2 separate regions of the Homo sapiens genome follow, and region 1 is linked to region 2. A link means that fine-mapping ties the variant in region 2 to the expression of a gene that starts in the linked region. Tissue or cell type: thyroid. Region 2 holds a variant in brackets; the other region holds the start of a gene. All regions are shown on one strand. Distances are between the middles of the regions.

Evidence for each region. PIP is the estimated chance that this variant, and not a neighbour inherited with it, causes the effect.
Region 1: RASGEF1C starts here. The variant in region 2 is fine-mapped to the expression of RASGEF1C in thyroid (GTEx, PIP above 0.99).

The regions. Positions count from the first base shown.
Region 1 is chr5:180,205,932-180,214,043 of GRCh38, forward strand. RASGEF1C (RasGEF domain family member 1C) reads right to left here and starts at 3,280. Exons shown (of 14, transcript NM_175062.4): 1 at 3,097-3,280. RefSeq lists an enhancer at 1,279-2,071 and a silencer at 3,196-3,415.
Region 2 is chr5:180,102,000-180,110,111 of GRCh38, forward strand. It overlaps RASGEF1C (RasGEF domain family member 1C), which reads right to left. Exons shown (of 14, transcript NM_175062.4): 13 at 72-144. Among named protein-coding and RNA genes, the nearest start is that of RNF130, 34 kb to the left of the region's middle. The variant A/G (reference allele first, on the strand shown) is at 4,442.

The DNA.
Region 1 (8,112 bases), 100 kb after region 2:
ACCATGTTGGCCAGGCTGGTTTCAAACTCCTGACCTCAAGTGATCTGCCTGCCTCAGCCTTCCCAAGTGCTGGGATTACAGGCGTGAGCCACTGTGCCAGGCCCTCCTTGCCTTTAAATATATTTTTTCTCTCTCTCTCTCTTTCACCAGTATGTGAACAGATGGAACAGACAGACCTGTGAGACACACTAGAAAGCCCAGAAACAGGCCCAGGGCTTGGATTTTTAGTGTATGAGAAAGGTGCATTTCAGATCACTGGAGGAAAGATGACCTTTTAAATAAATGGCTTTGGGACAGAGTGCCAGACACTTAGAAAAAGATTAAATTGGATGCAGAGACTAAGTACACAACTAAACAAATATTAGAAAACACAGATGATTGCTTTATAATTGGGCTTTTCATAGTTAGAAAAGTCTAAGTATGATTCCAAATCTATGTGAAAAGATGTCCAATTTCATTTATAATAATAGAAATATAAATTTAAAATACACTGAAATACTGTTTCTCAGCTCTCAAACCAGCGAGGCTGTGGGGAAACAGAAGACACTGTGATACATCGGTGGTGGGAATGCAAAACGGTGCTACCTCTTGACAAGGAATTTGGGACTAGCTAACAAAATAAATCCACATTCACTCCTACTTCTAGAAGTGTGTTCTAAATATACACCTTTGCAAACATTAACAATATAGGTGCAAAGTTATCCATTACTCCATTATTTTAAATTTAAAAAGACTTGGAAAAAAACAAAATTGTTCATCCAGAGGACATAATTTGAATAAACAATAATAGTACAGCCACAGAACGAAATACTATGTGAGTGTAAAAAAGAATGAGCCAGGTCTCCATGAACTGGTAAGAAGTTACTTTCAGGACATACTTCTAACTGAAGAAAAACCAGGAGCTGTACGGCTAACTTTTGTGATAATGCTTAAATGACTTGTTTTGCAGAAAGAGACACAGGAAGGATAAACCAGAAAATATTTTAAATGGCTCCCAATGGTGTGGGAACAAGGAAGAAGATGCAGGGGTGGGACTGAGACCTTTAAGGATAGCTTTTTAATAGTTCTGACCTTTAAACCATGTGTTTTACGTATTCAAAAAATAAAATTACATCCTAAAGTCTAAAGGAAAAAAAGCTCCAAATTGAATGCAAGTAGAAACACACGAAGCTAACAGTGTGTCCGACTGATAACGTCACCACACAGCACTCTGCCTGCACACCCGTGGAAATCCCGATGCTGACCTAGCAGGTTTTGGTTGGCTTCGGTGTGGATGCAGTCATTCTGAAACTCTTTCGGGGTGCATTGTGGAGCTAAGTAAATGATGAAATATATTCATGTTTGGGGGAATAAGGTTCTCACTGCAGGAGAAAGGGAAAGGAAATATTAATTTTTAGTAAAAAAGGGGCCTTGGCTTGGTCCACTGACAAGGCCTAGAGGCGGCGAGTGCACGCCCCACACTAAGCCCGGGTCCCACGCAAGGAACCAAGGCCCCTTGGACAAATGGCTGACTCTGGATCTGGGTCCAGGTACAAGTGAGAGCTGGAACCACCTCAGAGACTGGCGGGGACATGGCAGGAGGGTGCAGACCCCGGCCTGAAAAGGGCCAGGTCCCGGGCAGGGCCCCACCTCTACCTGGTGGCCTGCGGGCTCCCCCTCGCCAGTCCCGCCCTGGGCTCCGCAGCCCGTCCCTCTCTCGCCTGCCCTCCCTCTCCTGCCCCGGCAGTGCGCCCACCCGCCGCCACGGGCAGCCTTTCGACGCCCAACCTGCAAACCGCCTGGGGGCTGCCCAGGACGTCCAGACCCTGTAGCGTCTCAGCTCCAGCTCCGCCCCCTCCTGCCCTCAGGGATCTCACCCGCGCTGTTCCCCCGGGCTACCCGTCCATCACAGGCTGGGCTCCCCGCTCAGGACAGCCTCCCTGACCAGACGAAGGCTCCGCCGCGCCCTGGTCTCCCTCTGCCCCAGTCACCCTACTGCATGTTCTTCCCAGCACGCATAAGATCTTGGCCATGTCCTTGCTTTTGCCTTTGATTTCTTGTTTGGTGTCCCCTCCCACACCAGCTAGTGAGCACTTACGGGGGCAGGCAGCAGGCGGCACACAGTAGGCGCTCAATGAATGTGGCCAGTGAGTGGACAACCCTAGCCCCCCTCCACCGGTCGCCTGCACAGTGGCTGCACTATGGCTGTTGGAGCCAGTCTTACCAGAGGTGGGACCCCAGCGTTGCCACTCCATGGTCCCGCCCCTCTCTAAACCTCAGTTACTCCACCTGCCTGGCAGGCAGAGCTTCCCAGGACTCTTCTCAGGCTCCCGGGGCTCAGAACTTCTGTCTCTCCCACAGCCCCAGGAGGCAGGAGATACGGGCCCGGAAGAGCTCCACCAGCACCCCAACTTCCCAGCTCTGTCTTTCCCACAGTTTCCCACGCCCACGCTGAGCATGGGGCGGCGTCGCCAGCACCCTTCCCCAAGTCCCCCCAAGCATCGCTTTCCCAATCTAAATACAATGAGTGGACCAGGTGGTCCCTTGATGCCGTCCGCTGTCACTGCGTGAGGGACACACCCAGGACTCCCAGCAGACCCCACTGTTCTCGCAGGCCCTCTGATAGTGGCGCTGGTCCTTTCCTCAAATCCGATCCCATCCTCAAGGGTGACAGCACCCTCTTCCCCCAGGCGCAAGGCCCTTTCCCTTCTGCACGTGCACCGGCAGGTCTGCTTTCCCGTCCCCATTTCATAGACGGGGAAACTGAGGTCCGGTGCGGGTGGAGGCTTTGGTCTAGGCTGGCTCTTCCTGCCACTCTAGCGGCTGAAAGAAGCTTGCTCCTCGCGCCCAGCAGGGGCTGGCGGCGCGCGGCAGAGCTGGGTCTCCCGCCAGGTGGCCGGGGGTGTGCCCTCAGGGTACCCTACCCGCTACCCCCGCGCCTCCAGTCCCGGCGGCCGCGCGGACCCCGCCCCTGCTGACCCCGGCGCACGCTCCCGCGCCGCGCGCAGCCTCCCGCCTCCCGCCGACCCCGCCGCGCCGCCGGCAGCCCTCCCCAGCCCCCGCGAGCCCGCGCCCTTGCCCGCACCGCCAGGTGTCCCTCGGCCGCGCACCACTCACCGGCTCCCGGCGCGCCGGAACTCCGGGCCCGGCCCATGGGCAGCTCCCGGTGCGAGCCTCGGCGCCGCGGACCGGGGCGCCGCCCGCCGCCGCCGCCGCCGCCGCCGCCGCCGCCGCCGCCGCCCGACCGCCCGGCTCCCAGCGCAGCCCGCACGAGCGCCTGGCGGCGGCCCCGGAGCAACGCGGCGCTGCGCCCCCTCGTGGCACTCAGGCAGCGCGGAGCGGGCGGGGCGCGGGGGTGGAGCTGCGGGAGCCCGCGGGCGGCGCTGCACACCAGGGCCCTCCGTGCCCCGGCCGCGGAGCCAAGCGTCCCGCCCTGCGTTCAGGCCTCCGCGGCGGCTGGCCCCCCGCGCCAGGACCACCCGCTCGGGCCGTCAGACGCTGCCCTCCCGCGCGCGGACCCTGGCGGACTCTGCGCCCCAGCTGCCCCAGCCTACACCTCACCTGGTGGGCCTCTGGCGCCCCAAAACCCAGTTCACCCTCTCTCCTCAAGACTGGGCCCGGCCCGGTTCTCTGGACTGGCCACCTAGGTTGTCTGTGTCCCCCAATGGGACATCCCTGGGTGGACACCCCCCCTCCCCAACCTTCTCGGCGCTCTCCCGTGGCCCCCAGGGAGGGTGGACACCACTTTGAAGACACCGGGGTTCTGGGAGGATGGCGATGCATGATTTCACTTTTAGAAAGGGAGAGGGGCTCTAACAGGATCCAGTGGCCTCCTTGAACTGGGTCTTCAGTGAAAAGTTCCCTGGTTGGTCCCAGCATAGAGGTCAGGACACCTGTCCTCCTGTGTCCGCAGTTTGTCCCTTCCGCTGGGTTCCTGGTCTGGCTGACTTCAAGAATGAGCCAGGGACCTTGGCAGTGAGTGTTACAGCTCTTAAAGGTGGTGCGACGGTGAAACCCTGTCTGTACTAAAAATACAAAAAAATTAGCCAGGTTTGGTGGTGGGCGCTTGTGGTCCCAGCTATTCGGGAGGCTGAGGCAGGAGAAGGGCGTGAACCCGGGGAGGTGGAGCTTGCAGTGAGCAGAGATTGCACCACTGCACTGTAGCCTGGGCGACAGAGCAAGACTCCATCTCAAAAAAAAAAAAAAAGAAAAGAAAAGAAAAAGGTGGTGCAGACCCAAAGAGTGCGTAGCAGCAAAATGTCTTGTGAAGAGCAAGAGAACAAAGCTTCCACAGCAGGGAAAAAGACCACAGCCGGTCGCCGCTGTTGCTGGCTGGCGAGGGGTGGGCGGGCAGCTTTTATTCCCTTATTTGTCCCCACCCATGTCCTGCTGATTGGTCCGTTTCACGGAGTGCTGATTGGTGCGTTTTTACAGAGTGCTGATTGGTGCATTTACAATCCTCTAGCTAGCCAGAAAAGTTCTCCAAGTCCCCACCCGACACGGAAGTTCCAGCTGCCTTCACCTCACTCTGCTTTAGTCAGGACCTGCCTGATGAGATGTGGCCCAAAACTCAACCCAACCAGCTTGAGCAAAAAGCTGGTTTGTGGATCATAAAAAGCCAAGGTTTACTGCTTAGAGGAATGGCTAGATCCAGGTACTTAACCTATGTGCATAGAAACTGGCCTCCCCTATCTCCCAGTCTTTCTGTGGCAGAATGGCCCTGGGTTGACACCTCAGAGAGGGCACAGCTGCCTGATAGTTGCAAGGACAGCCTGCGGCTGCCACACACAGGCTCCGAGGAGCTGAGCTCAGGCCATTTCCAAAGACCTAGGGAGCAGGAATAGCAGGCCTGGGTGTCGTCTCACTAGAGCTGAGGCAGAGTTAGTCCTGTGTCAGCTTTGAGGATGGAGTAAGGTGCTGTTCCAAGCTTCCGTGAAGGCTGTTCCTGGAAGAATGGACAGGTTAAGAACAACAGTCCAGCCCATTTCTTGAACAGTTAGGGAAACTGAGTCCTGGAGAGAGCAGGCAGCTGCCTAGGGCATACAGATGTATTAGAATGAATGTGGGCCAGGTAGCTAGGCAGGGAGACAGCAGGGCTGGGGCCAGGGCCAGGGCCAGAGGCTGGCCCTAGGGAGGGTGACATCTGAGACCAAGGGTCAGGTGTGGGGAAAGGGAGGAGGAACAGAGGCAGGCACTTGGTCAGGGGTGAGCAGTGTGCTCCCAGCAGATAGACAGATGCGCCTCAGGGTGCAGGCACTGGGCCCTCCCTGCATCTTCTCCGATTATCACCCTATGCCCCTAAGCCTCAGGTCCAGTCCCAGGGTGTCGCCTGGAGGAAGCCAGGAGTCTAGGAGGAGAGGCCGCAAGAGGCACCTCAGAAGAGCTGACCCACTCAGCTGTGTTGTTCTGGGGTCTGGGCAGCACTGAGCGGCCCTCCTAACCAAGTGCAGGTCAGGGTGGTGAGGCCAGTCTTTCCCCAGCTCACCCTTGCTCTGTGAGCAAAGGCTGCTGTCCCCTGATAAAGAACTTTCTCCAGCAAGTGGCTGGGGCCACTGAAGCATGATTGCCCTGCTGGGAGCAGGGTAGGGGATGCTTGGATGAGGCCAGGGCAACTGGAACATGGGTGTGGACTAGCTCATGGCCACAGCTCCGTGTCCCACAGGGGTGAGGGTGGCAGAGCTTTGCTCTGGGACAAAGGAGAAGACCGTGTCCCCTGAGGTCTCCTGCGTCCTCTCCCTGCCAGACCCATCGCTGCCGAGAGTTGGGCCTGTGCTGAGGAAGACGCATGAGCTGCAGTCGCGGCTCATGCAACACCAGGAAGGTTTTTGAGCCTCGCGGCCAGCGTGGAGTTCTGCCCTGAGCCTCCAGCTTTGTGGGACCCTGGCTGCAGGTGCCACCACTGGGCCCTGGGAGGTATCTGCTCCCGCCCCCTCATAGCCCACCCAGGAGTGCCCTCTAGCAAGGAACCTCTCCTGCCCAGCCCCTACCCTGCCCACCCAACTTCTCACTCCAGAACGTGCCCCGGGGCTAATCCCTGAGTGAGGGCATTGGGACAGAGGGTGAGCCATCCCTAGGGCCGTCAACTCAGTCTCCCCTCACCCCACCACTGCCCTGAGACATCTATTGGGTGGACACTTACCTAGGGCCTATGTGTGCCGGGCACCATGCTGGGTGCTGGGAATATAGCAGAGAGCCCGACATGGGGTTCCTGCCCCCTGGAACTCATGGTTTAGAGAAGGGAGGCTGAAAACTAACCATACAAACAAAAGAGTAAAAACAATCATTTCGGAGAGCGCCGAGCGCCATGAAGGAAGCCATACTGGGGAGGTGGTTGAGTGCGGTGGGGCTGCTTTAGAAGGGAGGGCCCAGGAAGGGCCTCTCCAGGCACATCAGACAAGGCACTGGCCATACAGGGTCTGGGAAAAGCACCGTGGGCAGAGAGAATAGCAAGGGCGAGGCCCTGTGGCTGGCATGGACTTTGCATTGTTTTTGCAAAAAAGAGGCTGGAGCCAAGGTGGAAGGGAACAGGGCCAGGCAGGGTGTCCAGGTGGGCAAGGAGCTGGATCCTGTCCTCTGGGTGTCGACACAGGGGCAGGTGTGGCTGCAGCTCTGCCAGCAGCACCCCCAGCAGGAGGGGGTGGTGCTGTCCCCAGATGTAGGGGTCCTGACACCCATGAGGCCTTTCCCAGCACCTTCAGCCCCTGCGTAGCTGCCCCTGGCCTGGATGGCACATCCTGCACACGTGTGACTCTGGGAGACCTGAGTGTGCCCCACCAACGCAGCACTGGGTTAGTGGGGCTGGAGTCCTTGTTCACTGGGTGTGGCCACGAGGGACAGGCAGCAGGCCCACGAGGAGTTGGCAGGCAGGGGAGAGCTGATGAGTACAGACCTGGGCAGGGGGCAGGGAATGGGGCAGACCTGAGGGCTGTTTCTGGGGGAGAAGCCACAGGACTGGATGATGGGAGATAGGAGAATGTGTGAGAAGTGACAGCGATGGCAGGGGTCCTGGCAGGATGAATGGGGTACCTTTCCCAGGAGGGCGAGGAGCCCCTTCACAGCAGACAGCACCTGCTGGGACTGTGGGGCCAGGGGCATGTGGAGGAGGTCTGGAGGCAGCGGGGCCTGCGGGTGCCTGCCTGGTGCGGGTCCTCAGGGAGGAAGGAAGGACAGCACGGGCTCCAGCAGCTGCAGGCGCTTACGCAGAGCAGGAGCCTGTGAGGCCCTGCAGTACGTCTGCCCGGGATGCTTGGCACAGCCACAGCACGTGACTCAGGGAAGGGGCACCGGGCAAGGCTGCTGAGCAAGTTCACCAATAAAATCAGGAAACACTGAGGACAGAACTTTGGGCTCTGGCCAAAGCATTTTATTAGCCGACCCGTAACTCGTCCATTCTTGGTCTGGTGAAAACCCTCCAAAGTTACTGCAAGGGCAGAGCTCCAGGAGAAGTCATCCTATAGTCAGCCACGGGAGGGGGCCACATTTAATGATCCTTTACAGTCCAGGGCTGCCAACCCACTGAGCCTGGGCTGGGAGGAGCAAGAGAGAGGGTGTGTGTGTGTATATGGATTTGCACATGTGTGCATGCATGGTATATGCAGTATGTGTATGTGCACTTGTGTGAATGTGTGGTGTGTTCTATGCATGTGTATGCAGCACATGTGTGTAATGTGTGTGTGTTGTATGCTTGTGTATGTAGCGCTGTTTTGTGCACGTGTGTGTATATATGTGATGCTGTGTGCATGAGTGTGTGGTATATGCATGTGTGTGTTGTCTGCTATGCACATGTGTGTGTGCTGTGTGCATGTTGGTGCTGCGTGCATGTATGTATGTTGTGTGCATGTGCGTGGTGTATGTATGTGTTGTGTGCATGTGTGCTCTGCCTATGTGTGTGGTGCCATGTGCATTCTTGTGCTCTATGCATGTGTGTGGTGCTGTGCATGTGTGTGCTGTGTGCATGTGGGTGTGCTGTATGTGTGGTACTGTGTGCCTATGTGCTGTGTGCATGTGTGTGGTGTATGCATGTGTGTGGTGTATGTTTTATGCTGTGTGCCTGTGTGCTGTGTGCATGTGTGTGGTGTATGTTTTATGCTGTGTGCATGCATGTGCTGTGTGCATGTGTGTGTTGTGTGCATG
Region 2 (8,112 bases):
GGCGCGAAGACTCACCTTAGAGCTTTCCATCCCAAGCAGCCCCCAGGCCCCACCTTGGCAGGAAGACTCACCTTAGAGCTTTCCATCTTTCTTTTTCTGTTTGGTTCTCTGGGCTCTCACTTTCGTAAGAAGCCAAATAAAGACCTAGACAGAAAATGAAGTGAAATTTCACAATTATGGTTGATGATAATAACCTGTTCTACACCTGCTATATCTGCGTGGGTCTCTTTCTGGGTTCTCTATTCTGTCCCATTGATCCATGTGTCCATCCCTCCCCTAATACTGTGCTGTCTTAACGACAGTAGTTCTATAACATTTGCGTGAGGGCTTTTGCTTTTGTGTGAAACTCACTTCAAATGATGTATAAATACATGAGTCTTTATTTCTCTGGAATAACTAACTGCCCAAGAATGCAATGGCTGGGCCATATCATAGTGGCATATTTGGAATAAGAAACTCTTTATCTAGCCCTATATTCTGAGGGTTATCTCTTGCTTTTCCCTGCTAAAAGCTGTATAGGTTTACATTTTACATTTTAGTCTGTGATCCATGCTGAGCTAATTATTTGTATAAGGTGTGAGGCTTGGGCTGGGGTTCATGTTTTGGTCTGTGGATGTCCGGATGCTCCGGCACTGTTTGTTGGAGGGCTAGCTTTCCTCCATTGGGTTTTGTTTTGTTTTGTTTTGTTTTTGTCAAAAATCACCTGGTATATTTGCGTGGGTCTCTTTCTGGGTTCTCTATTCTGTCCCATTGATTCATGCGTCCATCCCTCCCCTAATACTGTGCTGTCTTAACGACCATAGCGCTATCATATCAGCCTTAACATCAAGCAGACTCATTCCTCCCACGAATCCTTTTCAAGATTGTTTTAGCAATTCTAGTTCCTTTGACTTCCGATACAAATTTTAGGAGAATCTCGTCTCTATCTTACAAAGAGTCTTGCTGGGATTTGGGTAGGAATTGCATTAAACCTGTACTTAAATTCTGGGAGGAGAATTAATACCTTTGCTATGCAGTCTTTGCGTTCGAGAACATCCTATGTCTCCATTTATCTACATCTTTCTTGATTTCTTTCATCAGCATTAACTTTTTTTTGAGACAGAAGTCTCGCTCTGTCGCCCAGGCTGGAGTGCAGTGGCGCGATCTCGGCTCACTGCAAGCTCTGCCTCCCGGGTTCACACCATTCTCCTGCCTCACCCTCCCGAGTGGCTGGGACTACAGGTACCCACCACCACGCCCGGCTAATGTTTTGTATTTTTAGTAGAGATGGGGTTTCACCGTGTTAGCCAGGATGGTCTCGATCTCCTGACCTTGTGATCCGCCCGCCTCGGCCTCCCAGAGTGCTGAGATTACAGGCGTGAGCCACCGCACCCGGCACATCAGCATTAACTTTTAGCGTACACGTCCTGTGCGTGTTCTGTTCCATTTCCACCTACATATTTCATGTGAGTGACTGTAAATGGTATTATCATTTTAGTTTCAGCGTGCACATGTTTATTGCTCATACGTAGAAACATGGTTGATTTTTGCATGTGTGTCTTGTATCCTGCAACCTTGCTGAACTCCCTTATTAGTTCTAGGGGTTTTTGTAGATTCTTTGGGATTTTTTTTCCTCATCATCTGCAAATAGGGACAGTGTTAATTTTTCTTTCTGATTTGTGTGTTACTTCCTGTTCTTGCCTTATCGCACTAACTAGTTCTTCCATTACTATGATGACTAAGAGTGGGGAAGAGTGAACATCCTTTCATTGTTATTGGTCTTACGAGGAAAGCATTAAATCTTCTGCTGTTAAATATAATGTTTGCAGAAGCGTTTCTGTGGATGCAACTTGTCATGCTGATAAATTCCCTTCTATTACTAGTTTCTGAGAGTTTTTACCATAAATGCGTGTAGAAATTTGTCAAATGCCTTTTCTGCATTGATTAATATAATCATGTGTCTTTTCTTCTTTAGCTGTTTAGTATAGTGAATCACACTGATTGAATTTCAAATATTGAACAGCTTTGCATCCTTGGAATGAACCCACTTAGTCATGACGTATAATTATTTTTACATATTGCTGAACTCTATTTGCTTATTTTGTTAAGGATTCTTGTGTCTATATTCATGAGGGATATTGGCCTGTATTTTCTTTTTTTGGTACTGTCTTTGGTTTTAGTATCAGGGTAATACTGGTGCCAGGGTTTGAATGTTTGTGCCCTGAAAAATTCATGTTGAAACATAATCCCGAATGCAACAGTGTTAACTAACAGGTGGGGTCTGGAGGAGGCGATTAGGCCATGAGGTTCCACCCTCATGGATGGGATTAGTGCCCTTATGAAAGGGCTGGAGGGAGCCAGTCTGGCCCCTTTTTGCCCATCTGCCAAATGAGGACACAGCATTTGCCCCTTCTGCCATGCGAGGACACAGCAAGAAGGCTCCACCTTAGAAGCAGAGAGCAGCCCTCACCAGACACAGAATCTGCCTTGATCTTGGATTTCTGGCCTCTGAAACTGTAGATATATATATATAAACTCAGTGGTAAGAAAATGTCTGTTGTTTATGAATTACCCAGTCTAAGGTATTTTGTTACGGCAGCTCAAACTGACTAAGACAACTGGCTTCATCAGGAGGCTCCCTCCTCTGCCACTTTCTGGAAGAGATTGTGGAGAATTGGTGTTAATTCTTTAAGCATTTGGTAGAAGTCTCCAGTGTAACCATTTGAGCCTGTAGACTTCATTTTTGGGAGTTTTAAAATTATAAATTCAATTTATTTAATAGTCACAGGGCTATTCAAATTATCTATTTTATGTCAAGTTGTGGTAATTTGTGCTTTTTAAGGAATTAGTTCATTTCATTTAAATTGTTAAATTCGTGTGTGTGGAGTTGTTTGTCGTATTCCCTTATTATCTTTTCAATGTCTGTAGTCGTTAGTGATATCCTGTTTTACTCCTGGTACAGTAGTCCCCTATTATCTGTGGGGGATACATTCTAAGTCCCCTGGTGGCTGCCTGAAACTGCAGATAGTACGGAATCCTGTATATACTTGTCTTGGATCCCTTTTCCATCTTAACTAAGCACTCATCAGGCACTTCTGCAGTTTGAGATGCAACAGCAAAACTAGCAAGAATTTATTTTTCTTTCTTCAGAATTTCATGGATAAGTTTGTTCTTACTGTAGATCTTAGTAATCTCAGCATACAATTTTTTCCCTTGAGAACTTTCACCTCATCATTTAACGGAAGCACTTTACAGCTTCCCTTTGCCATATCTGAACTGCCTGCATCACTGCTCAGGTACTTTGCCAGGCGCGGTGGCTCACGCCTGTCATCCCAGCACTTTGGGAGGCGGAGGTGGGCAGATCACGAGGTCAGGAGATGGAGACCATCCTGGCTAACACGGTGAAACCCCGTCTCTACTAAAAATACAAAAAATTAGCCAAGTGTGGTGGCGGGCGCCTGTAGTCCCAGCTACTCGGGAGGCTGAGGCAGGAGAATGGTGTGAACCCGGGAGGCGGAGGTTGCAGTGAGCCGCGACTGCGCCACTGCACTCCATCCTGGGTGACAGAGCAAGACTCTGTCTCAAAAAAAAAAAAAGAAGTAAAATAGGCTGGGCGCGGTGGCTCACACCTGTAATCCTAGCACTTTGGGAGGCTGAGGCTGGTGGATCACTTGAGGTCAGGAGTTCGAGACCAGCCTGACCAACATGGTGAAACCCCGTCTCTACTAAAAATACAAAAATTAGCTGGGCGTGGTGGCTCACGCCTGTAATCCCAGTGACTTGGGTGGCTGAGGGAGGAGAATCGCTTGAACCTGGGAGGCAGAGGCTGCAGTGAGCCGAGATCGTGCCACTGCACTCCAGCCTGGGTGACAGAGCGAGACTCTGTCTCAAAAAAAAAAAGAAGTAAAATGAGGGTTACCTGGACACAAGCACAGTGACACTGACAGTTGATCTGATAGCTGAGGTGGCCACTAAGTGACTGATAGGCAGCATAAACACAGCACAAATGCCGGGCAAAGGGATGAATCATGTCCCAGGAGGAACCCAGTGGGATGACGTGTGATTTCATCACACTACTCAGAATGGTGCACAATTCAAAACTTATGAATTATTTCTGGAATTTTCCATTTAGTATGTTCAGACCACGGTTGACTGAGGGTAACTACAGATAAGGGGGGACTACTGTATCAGTAATTTGTGTCTTTTCCTTTTCTTTGTCAAGAGGTTCTTTGCTAGATGGCAGCAATTTTATTGTTCTTTTCAAAGAACCAGCCCTTTGATTAACTTTATTGTTTTTCTGCTTACGGGTTCATTGATTTCTGCTCTTATTTCCATCCTGCTGCTGGCTTTGAGTTTATTTTGCTCCTCTTTTTCTAGATTCTTGATGTAGGAACTTAGATTATTGATTTGACACTTCCCCTTTTTTCTAATGTATGCATTTGGTGCTATAAGATTTCCTCTG[A/G]GTCCTGCTTTAGCTGTCCTACAAATTTGATTGTATTTTCAGTCAGTTCAATTATTTTTTAAATTTTCCATGAGCCTCTTTGACCCATGGATTATTTACAAGTGTGTCATTTAATTTCTAAATGTTTCAAGAGTTTTCTGTTGTCTGATGCTACCGATTATAATTTAATCCCACTGTGGTTGAAGAACATAGTGTGTTATGATTTCAGTTACTTTCAATTTGTTTCAGCTTGTTTTATGGCTCAGGAGATGGTATATTTTGGTCTATATTCTGGGGGCAATTTTAAAAAATGTGTGTTCTACTGCACTTGTATGGAGTGTTCTGTAAATGTTGATTAGATTCCTGTTGTTTGATGATATTGTTGAGTTCTTTGTCTTTGCTGATTTTCTGTCTAGTTGTTCTATCAATTGTTCAGAGAAGGGTGTTGACATCTTCAATTGTAATTGTAGATTAGTTATTTCTCCTTTCAGTTTGATCAGCTTTTGCTTAATGAATTTTGTAGCTCTGATGTTTGGTGGATACATAGTTAGGATTGCTATATCTTGGGGGACTGACCCTATTATTACTGTATAATGTCCTTCTTTGTTTCTGGTAATTTTCTTTCTCCTAAAGTGTGCTTTATCTGAAATTAATATTGCTACTCTTGCTTTCCTCTAATTAATATTAGCATGCTATATCTTTTCTTCTTTTTTTACTTATCAAAATGTCTCTATCATTATAGTGAAGTGAGTTTCTTGTAGATAGCCTATAGTTGGATCATTTTAAAAAATCGACTTTGTCAATTTCTTTTACTTGGTGTATTTAGACCATTTACATTTAATGTAATTATTAGTATGTTAGGACTTAAGTCTGCCTTTTTGTCTATTTTTTTGTTTTCTTTTTGTTCTGTGTTTTGTTCTCTGTTTTATTTTTCTTGTCTTCCTGTGGTTTACCTGAACAGCTTTTAGAATTCTATTTTGATTTATCTATAGTTAATTCCTGAAGGATGTTTTCACCGTATATAGGATTCTGGCTTGACAGTTCTTTTGGCAATTGAAAAATGTGCCACTGTCTTCTGGCCTCTTGGTTTCTGATGAGAAATTTGACATGATTCAGAGTGTTTTCCCCCTATGGGTAAAGTGTCATTTCTCTCTCAGTGTTTTTAATATTTAAAAAAAAATTTATTTTTTAATTATTTTTTTTCTTTGAGACAGAGTCTTGCTCTGTCACCCAGGCTGGAGTGCAGTGGCACAATCTTGGCTCACTGCAATCTTTGCCTTCCAGGTTAAAGCAATTCTTGTGCCTCAGCCACCCAAGTAGCTGGGATTATAGGCATGTGCCACCACAGCTGGCTAAATTTTGTATTTGTAGTAGAGACGAGGTTTCGCCATGTTGGTCAGGCTGGTTGGTCAGGCTGGTCTCGAATTCCTGGCCTCAACCAAACCACCTGCCTCAGCCTCCCAAAGTGCTGAGATTACAGGTATGAGCCACTGCACTTGGCTTCAAGATTTGTTTCTTTTCCTTCAGTTTTCAGAAGTTTGACTACAATGGGTCTTGGTAGGGGTTTCTTTAGTTTTTCCTTTTGGGGATCATTCAGCTTCTTGAATCTGTAGGTTTATGTTTTTTCCAACTCTGGGAACTTTCTAGCCATTATTTCTTTGAGTACTTTTTCAGTCCTGCCCTCTTTTTCCTCTCCTCCACAGACTGTGATGACATGAGTGTGGGATCTTTGGTTATAATCCCACAGGTCCCTGAAAATATGTTTCAGTCTATTTTCTTTCTTTCTTTTTTTTTTTTTTTGAGACAGAGTCTCACTCCATGGCCTAGGCTGGAGTGCAGTGGTGCGATCTCGGCTCACTGTAACCTCCACCTCTTTGGTTCAAGTGATTGTCTTCCCTCAGCCTCCCAAGTAGTTGGGACTACAGGTGCCCGACACCACGCTTGGCTAATTTTTTGTATTTTTAGTAGAGATGGGGTTTCACCGTGTTAGCCAGGATGGTCTCGATCTCCTGACCTCATGATCTGCCTGCCTCAGCCTCCCAAAGTGCTGGGATTACAAGCACGAGCCACCGCGCCCAGCCGTTTCAGTCTATTTTCTCCCTGTTGTTCAGATTGTATAATTTCTATTGTTCCATCTTCCAGTTCATAGATTTTTTTCCTCTGCCTTCTTTATTCTGCTGTTAAGCCCATTCACTCAGTTTTCCATCTCAGTTATTGTATTTTTCAGTTCTAAAACTCCCATTGGCTCTTCCTTATTATATCTTCTGTTTCTTTGCTGAGACTTTCTATATTTTCATTTGCTTCAAGGAGATTCAAGTCTGACTAATTGCCAGGTGGGCCCTGCCAGGGAAGCCTGGAGCTGAGGTCAGGGCCAGGTTTTTGTCAGAGGCTGTAAGTGACCCAGCTGGGGCTCAGTACATCCTAGGTCTCTTACCTTACTTCCCTCCACTTTTTTGGGGTTGTGGGAGGGACAGAAGGAAGAGACAGTAAAAATGGAAGATGCCCCTCTCTAACGGGGCTCCAGGAGGGCCACAGTTTTGTCTGTGTTAACTGCTAGATTGTTGCCTGGCACACAGCAGTCTCTGAAGACATATGGTTGACTAAAGGAGTAAATAAAATGCCCCCCTTTTCTCCCTCTCTGCCCTGAGACTCCTCTATGCCTCTCCTCATGTGTCTTTAACTCATCTTAATGCCCAAGTTCCATGAAGAGGTCACTGGCTAATGACAACAATCATCATAATAATTAGGGTAGTAGGGCCAGGCGTGGTGGCTCACGCCTGTAATCCCAGCACTTTGGGAGGCTGAGGCGGGTGGATCATGAGGTCAGGAGATTGAGACCATCCTGGCTAACATGGTGAAACCCCGTCTCTACTAAAAATACAAAAAAAATTAGCCGGGCGTGGTGGTGGGTGCCTGTAGTCCCAGCTACTCGGGAGGCTGAGGCAGGAGAATGTCGTGAACCCGGGAGGCGGAGCTTGCAGTGAGCCGAGATTGCGCCACTGCACTCCAGCCTGGGTGACAGAGCGAGACTCCGTCTCAAAAAAAAATAATAATAATAATTAGGTTGAATAATGGTCCCAGAGGTATCCAGGTTCTAATCCCAGGACCTTTGAATGTTACCTTCTATGGCAAAAAGGAACCTTACAGACATGATTAAATGAAGGATCTGGAGATGTGGAGAATATCTTGGATTATATGTGGGGGCCCTAAATGCAATCACAGGTGTCCTTATAAGAGGACGGCAAAGGGAGATTTGACTAAGGTGGAGAGAAGATGATGTGATGATGGAAGGAGAGATTGGAGTGATGCACTTGGAAGATGAAGGAAGGGGCCACAGCCAAGGAATACAGGTGGCCATTAGAAGTTGAAAAGGCCAGGAAATAGATTCTCCTCTCAGGGCCTCCAGAAGAAACCAGCCCTGCTGACAGCTTGATTTTAGCCCAGAGAAACTCATTTCGGCCCTCTGGTCTCCAGAAGTGTATAAGGAAACTCATTTCAGCCCTCTGCTCTCCAGAAGTGTATAAGGAAACTCATTTCAGCCCTCTGCTCTCCAGAAGTGTGTAAGGATAAATCTGTGTTGTTTTGAGCCACCAAGCTTGTGGTGATTTGTGACAGCACCAACAGGAAACTCACGCACTAGTGTGGATTGAGGGTAATTGTGTGGACTTCGCCTGGGCAGCTCCAGGCATTCT